2 linked regions of the Homo sapiens genome follow. Changing the gene in region 1 together with any one later gene gives a genetic interaction. Each region holds a gene or a part of one and is shown on either strand. Other genes may lie near its edges. The genes, in order: ATAD3A and SREBF2.

The links.
Region 2: changes in ATAD3A (region 1) and SREBF2 together harm fitness more than expected from each alone (negative genetic interaction), as found in Homo sapiens cells (one large-scale study listed by BioGRID).

The regions. Positions count from the first base shown.
Region 1 is NC_000001.11:1,528,972-1,532,294, reverse strand, and holds part of ATAD3A (ATPase family AAA domain-containing protein 3A), read right to left. Parts: intron 3,073-3,323; coding exon 2,964-3,072; intron 1-2,963. UniProt on the Homo sapiens protein: Essential for mitochondrial network organization, mitochondrial metabolism and cell growth at organism and cellular level. May play an important role in mitochondrial protein synthesis. May also participate in mitochondrial DNA replication.
Region 2 is NC_000022.11:41,902,309-41,906,119, reverse strand, and holds part of SREBF2 (sterol regulatory element-binding protein 2), read right to left. Parts: intron 3,151-3,811; coding exon 2,965-3,150; intron 1,258-2,964; coding exon 1,146-1,257; intron 681-1,145; coding exon 460-680; 3' UTR 1-459.

The sequences.
Region 1 (3,323 bases):
AGCATTACCCTCATATCAAAGCCAGACAAAGACACCACAAGAAAAATGACATGCCAATATCCCTGATAAGCATCGTTGGAAAAGTCCTCAACAAAATGCCAGCAAAACCAATTCAGGAGTATAATAAAAAAATTATACACCCTGACCAAGCAGGATTTATTCCTGGAATGCAAGGATAGTTCAACGTACAAAAATCAATCAATGTTCCACATAAAAAATGTTCAACATACAAAAATCAATCAATATTAGCCGAGTGGAGGAAGGAAACTACATGACCCTCTCATCTGATGCAGGAAAAGCATTCGACCAAATTCAAAACCCTTTTATGAGAAAAGAATTCAAGATGCCGTGCATGGTGGCTCACACCTGTAATCCCAGCACTTTGGGAGGACAAAGGGGGCAGATCACCTGAACTCAAGGAGATCCACTGCCTCAGCCTCCCAAAGTGCTGTGGTTACAGGTGTGAGCCACCGTGCCCAGCCCAAATTATTATTTTATTTTTTATTTTTTTATTTTTGAGACAGAGTCTTGCTCTGTCGCCCAGGCTGGAGTGCAGTGGTGCGATCTCGGCTCACTGCAAGCTCTGCCTCCCGGGTTCATGCCATTCTCCTGCCTCAGCCTCCCAAGTAGCTGGGACTACAGGCACCCGCCACCACATCTGGCTAATTTTTTTTTTGTATTTTTTATTAGAGATGGGGTTCCACCGTGTTAGCCAGGATGGTCTTGATTTCCTGACTTCATGATCCGCCCATCTCGGCCTCCCAAAGTGCTGGGATTACAGGCATGAGCCACCGCGCCCGTCCAGCCCCAGTTATTATTATTTTTAGTTTTCGTTTTCGTTTTTTGGGATGGAGTCTCACTGTGTTGCCAGGCTGGAGTGCAGTGGTGCAATCTCGGCTCTTTGCAACCTCCGCCTCCCGGGTTCAAGTGATTCTCCTGCCTCATTCTCCCAAGTAGCTGGGATTACAGGCATGCGCCACCACACCCAGCTAATTTTTGTATTTTTAGTAGAGATGGGGTTTCACCATTTGGCCAGATGGTCTCCATCTCTTGACCTCGTGATCTGCCCGCCTTGGCCTCCCAAAGTGCTAGGATTACAGGTGTGAGCCACTGCACCTGGCCTATTACTATTTTTTTAAGATGGAGTCTCACGCTATTGCTCAGGCTGGAGGGCAGTGGCACCATCTCAGCTCACCGCATCCTCCGCCTCCTGGATTCAAGAGATTCTCCTGGCTCAGCCTCCTGAGTAGCTGGGACTACAGGCATACACCACAAATGTGCCGGGGTAATTTTTGTATTTTTAGTGGAGGTGAGATTGGCCTTGTTGGCCAGGCTGCTCTCAAACTCCTGACCTCAGGTGTATGATATTCTCACTTCAGCCTCCCAACGTGCTGGGATTACAGGAGTGAGCCACCGCACTCGTTCCAAATTATTCTTAGTTTTTTTTTTTTTTTTTTTTTTTTTTTGAGACGGAGTCTCGCTCTGTCGCCCAGGCTGGAGTGCAGTGGCGGGATCTCGGCTCACTGCAAGCTCCGCCTCCCGGGTTCATGCCATTCTCCTGCCTCAGCCTCCCAAGTAGCTGGGACTACAGGCGCCCGCCACTACGCCCGGCTAATTTTTTGTATTTTTAGTAGAGACGGGGTTTCACCGTTTTAGCCGGGATGGTCTCGATCTCCTGACCTCGTGATCCGCCCGCCTCGGCCTCCCAAAGTGCTGGGATTACAGGCGTGAGCCACCGCGCCCGGCCATTATTCTTAGTTTTTAAGACAGGGTCTTGCTCTGTAATCCAGGCTGGAGTGCAGTGGCAATCACAGCTCACTGCAGCCTCCACCTCCTGGACTCAAGTGATCCTCCCACCTCAGCCTCCCAAGCAGCTGGCATTACAGGCATGTGCCACCAGGTCCAGCTAATTTTTTCATTTTTTGTAGAGATGGGGTCTTGCCTTGCTTTCCAGGCTGGTCCTAAACCCCTGGCTTCAAATAATCTAACTTGGCCTCCCCAAATGCTGGGAATACAAGCGTCAGCCACCACCATACCCGGCCTCTGCTTTCTTAGTTGTGGAAACAGACCTGGTTCCAAGTGGGGATGGCCTGGAACAGAGACCTCAGCTGACCCACAAGGACGGGGTTTGAGATCTGGGGCTCTTTGTCACAGTGGCATAACCCAGCCTGTACTGACTAATACAGCCCCCTGTGAACCCCGGCTCCAACATTCAAATCAAGGTACTCGGCTGCTTCATTAAGCTGTCACACGTTCATTCAAAAGCACTGCTAGATTGAGGAACCAGGTTGTTACACAGACTCTGCGGACCCCAGAGGTGGTGATGCCTGTGCGTGGCCAGGGTGCCTTCTGCCCCACCAACCTGGTTTTGCTTTTCCAGCAACCCCCAAAGACCAAAGCTTTCTGGATGGCCACGCCCACACTCCTGTGAGTCCTGGCTCCTCAGCCCTGGAGCAGCCACGGAGCTGCAGGAGGGGTGTCCCCGAAGAACAACTGGCTGTGGGACAACCAGAGGCCACTCCCACCCATGTGTCAAGCAGGACCAAGCCCACAGACTTGGTCCAGAAAACACAATGTCCCTCCACCCCGAACCCCCAACTCACATGGGGCCTGTCCTAACGACCATTTACACAGGGAGGTGCCTATTGGCCAAGGTGAGAGTCAGAAGCCTCCAGCCCCACCTGGCAAAGCTCGGGCTACGGCGATGCCAGACTGGCCTCCAGAGAGCCCCGGGTGACTGTCAGCCACCGACATGGCTCCACCCTCCTGAGGGCACGAGCAGGTGCGCGATGCCTCGTGGAGTGGCCTGACTGGGGCAGGGGGCCCTGTGTCACCTCTGTGCACTGAAAACCCCTCAACAGAAGCTCCCGCGTGACACCGGTGCTGGGACAGGCCTGGCGCAACTGAGCATCTCCACAGCAGCTGGGGTCCCGTCTGGGTGGACGTGCCGGAGCCTGACTCACCTGCCAGGACACGGCCAGCTGAGCGATCTCCCGGCCCGACATGCCCTCCGTCAGCCGAGCGACCTCCGAGCACTTCCTCCCGTAGTCAAACTGGGCCAGCTTCAGGCGCCTGGGGAAGGAGTTCCCAAGTGGGCCGGCCAAGGCAGCAGCTCCCACAACACGAGGTGGAGGCCGGAAGACAGGCAGCGAGGCCGACACCCACGCCAAACATCCTCTTTGGAGGGGCTCTCTACTTCTGACAGCCCAGCTCCACATCCTCCCTGCTGCAGGCCAGGCCCGGACTGAGCAGGGAGTGGCTGCAGGGCCTGGAGATGGCCCCAACCACTCCTCACACCAGCCCTGCCCACAGCTGCTCACTCA
Region 2 (3,811 bases), on another chromosome or scaffold:
CTGGTAGAAAACATTCGTATAAAAAGGGGAGGGCATGCTGGGCACAGGCCTGAGGGCAACTGCTCCCTGGTGCTCAGAGACTGCTGTCCCCCAGAGAAAGCCTGATAAAAACTGAGGAAGCAAAAAGGAGAGAGTAGGGTTCAGGAGAGAGAAACTCAGGAAGGCTGGAGGCAGGGGCTTGGCAGCTTGGGAGCTCCCCCTGCTGCTATCAAGTCAGGGCTGCCCAGTTTCTGCCCTGCCACCTATCCTCTCACGCCCACCAGGCCCTGGACCATGGGCATCTAGTGACAGCAGCTTTAAGGGGCTCTGCCCAGGGGTGCACTGGCCTGAGTGGCCCAGAAGCCTCGGCAGGTGACAGCTAAGAAGACAAGGCTCTTCCCCACCACTCTCAGCGGGAAGATGCTGAGGGGGAGAGAGAGAAATCGAGAGAGAGGTGGAGGGGTGGGCTGAGCCTGGTGGTCAGGAGGCGGCAATGGCAGTGCCACCACCCAGCTTAACAATCATCTGCTGGCAGTCGTTGCAGGAGCGCCGGTCGCCCACCTTCTCCAGGGTGCGGGCAGCTTCGGCCAGCAGCACTGCCCGCTGGCCCGGGGAGGAGAGGAAGGAGAGGGGCAGGTGGCGGCAGGCCAGCAGGATGGCGGTGGCCCGCTCTCGCTGGCCGGGCCAGGCATCCACCTCTCCTGTGGGAAGGAGATGTGTGTCACAACCGAGAATCTACCATGAAGTTGGTGCAGTTCCTTGGCGTTACCTGGACTCATTCACTGAACGCTCACATCCATCCTGGGAGGTGGGGTCTGCTGCCCCACCCAATCCACGGAAAAGAAGTGAACTTGTCCAGCCTCTCACGGCCAGCCCGTGGTGGGGCTGAGATGGGCCCACATGACCTGGCTCGAGCTTCTGCTTCTATGCCTGCACCTGTGCTGGGACGCCACCCCAACCCTCCTTCCCTGATCACAGCATGACCCATGACCACCCCAACCCCTGCAACCCACCAAGGGCGGCCTCGGGCTTCTTTCATTCTCAGAGAGGCGAGAGGTGTGCTGGGCACCAATGCCAGATGTGGGAGCTGGGCTGGCCCCTCTTCTCCTCTCTTCCTAGGGCGCAGGGCCTGGCCCAGCCTGTGAGCTGGGGAGGGGTGGACTCACCGTGCTTGGTGCTCTGCGTGGTGCGCCGCCGCAGGCTGTGTTCCAGCAGCTGGTGGGTGCGGGTGGGGCTGGCTCCTGCCATCAGGCGCACGGTGGCTTCATGCAGGAACACCTGGGGAGGTGCCGGGGTGACATCCATCACACCCCTGGTCCCCACCCATCTATGCCCAGGGTAGCTCTCCCTGAGCCATCTCGCCTGCCACCTCATGACATCCCTTCCCACACCACCCTGCCTTGCTCACCCCTGAAAAGCAACCTCTGTTGTCCCGTACTCTGACCCTGAGCCAGGCAGGAAACCTGGCTGAACAGCAGGAGCAGGATGAGAGGAGAGAGAGGCAAAAGGCCTGCTTTTCCCAACTGGTGACAAGAAAGCCCTGGACGCACCTCGTGGGGCTGGTAGACAAGTGCCCTGGGTGAAGCCCCAAGGCCCTGGAGGCTGCCTGCAGTTTGACAAAAGGACAGGTGTGACAGGGACAGAGGGGTGAGGAGGGACAGTTGGGCTGGTACCAGAGAGGTTTGGTATCCTCTTTCCGTATCTTTAGAAAGGAAGAGAGTCTAGAGGTGTGCGGGTAAAGTCTGCAGCGCTTAGGTATGAGCCACTGGTGGGTGAAGGGCAAGGCTGAGGTCTGTCATTTCTTAAAATCTCAAGCTCTTTTTGATGCCTTTATATCTCAGTCTTCAGGGAGGGTCTTCAGTGCTGCCAAGTGGATTCTGGTCCTGGTAGGCAATGGGGAGCCGCTGATGGGCTCTCAGCAGGGAGCAGCAGAATGGAAATGGTATTTAAGAGGAGGCCTTTGGACCAGGCGAGGTGGCTCACACCTGTAATCCCAGCACTTTGGGAGGCCGAGGCAGGAGGACAGCTTGAGGCTAGGGGTTTGAGACCAGCCTGGGCCACATAGCAAGACCCCATCTATTATGAAAAAAAGGCCACTGATGCCAGCCATGCTGTGAGCAGACCAGAGAGCTGACCAGAGTGGGCTCCAGGAGGCAGGGGTGCCGCTCCAGGCCTGGGGTACATGCCCTCTTCTCCACAGTAAGGAATGGCTCTCCGATGATACTGTCTGTTGTGTCTGTCTTGGCTTGCTGCACACAGTGGCCACAGTGCAACCCTGGGTGGGCCCCGCAGCACCTCAGGGTGATGGGTGTGGGGGCTGAATCCCAAGCTCCACGGCAGCAGCCTCGCTCTGAGGCCTTCTTCCAGCCCAGCCCGTGCCCCCTCAATGACACTTGAGTCATCTCACTCAAATTTTTAGAAAAAAATACAGGTACAAATATGTTGAATACATTATATAGCAATACAAATAAACAAAAAAGGAAATAGCTGGAGCCTGGCAAGCCCAGTCATAGAACTTTCCTCCGTGACTTAGTTCAGATCACGTGGCCACTGCCAAGGGGATGTTACCCAGCAGCAGAACCGAAGCCTCTAGCTACTGTGAAAAAGAATGAAAGTCAACGTGGAGCTCGGGACCAGGCCAGGAGCCCTGACTTGCCACCATTGCCCTCAGAGCCCTCCCACCCAGCATGTGCCTGGGGAGGCACAGCTCCCTGCTGGCCCCTGTCTGTGGCAGCAAAGTGTGGCCTGCTCCCTGCTGAGCTCCAGGGCCAGGCATACAGCAGGCACTCAACCAATGTGTGCTGAACACAGGGACACATGGCGCCTAGCCCAGTGTTGGGCACGAGCCAAGCAGGTGCTCGACAGGTCACCAGGCTGACCTCAGAGGGCCAACTCCACAACCACATGCTGGTGCCCATGCTGGGTTCTGGGCTCAGGCCCCACAGGCTCCAATCTGCCCTGCCCCACCAGCCAGCTGGGCCTCACCTTGCGGTATGCTGGGCGGAAGCTGTGTGCCAGCCTGCGCAGGCTGCCCAGGTCCCGTTGGAAGCCCGCCAGTTCAGCGCCTGACGCGTGGTAGGTCTCCCCCACAGCCTGGCTGGCACTGGCCTGTTTTTGCCAGAGCGCTGTCCGTAGCGACAGTAGCAGGTCACAGGTGAGCAGCTGGACCACCTGTGGGGTCAGCCACGAGAGAGGGGAGACAGGTGACTGGCCCATCCCTGAGGCAAGGATCCTAGCACCTACCAGGCCTCTCCCCAGACCAACACTCAGCAGCTCTGGGAGGAAGTGGAGAGCCCCAGAGTCTGGTGAACTCCGCAGGACGTGAGGGAACAGCTCAGGGGAGAACCAGTTCCTTCCATGGCCCCAGGAGGTGGGAGACAAGCCCTCCCCATTCTGCAGGTGAGAAAGCAAGGCTCTGACAGGGACAGCAGCTTGTATAGGGAATACAGCACAGGCAGGTGGCAGGGGCAGAAATAAAACCCTTGTGGGTTGAAGGCGCAGGTTCTTCCACCCCATGGGAGTCCCACCATGGCTGGCTAGGAGGCTGAGATACCCACAAGGTACCAAGGAAAAGCCTGAAGTGGCAGCAGAGCCTGTCGATGGGGCTGGGGGAAGGAGGAGGAGGAGTGGGAGAGGGAGACAGGTGTCTCAGAAGACAGAACCACAGAGTGCCTTAGTGCTTGGGGACTAGGCCTACTGACCCGGCTTTGCCACTTACTAGCTACATGACCCTGGCATAGGACTTAGTCTCTCTGAGCCTCAGTTTCTTCATTCAAAAAAATGTAAATGGCACCATCACAGGGCTGTTGTATCATATGAGAAGGTACTGCAT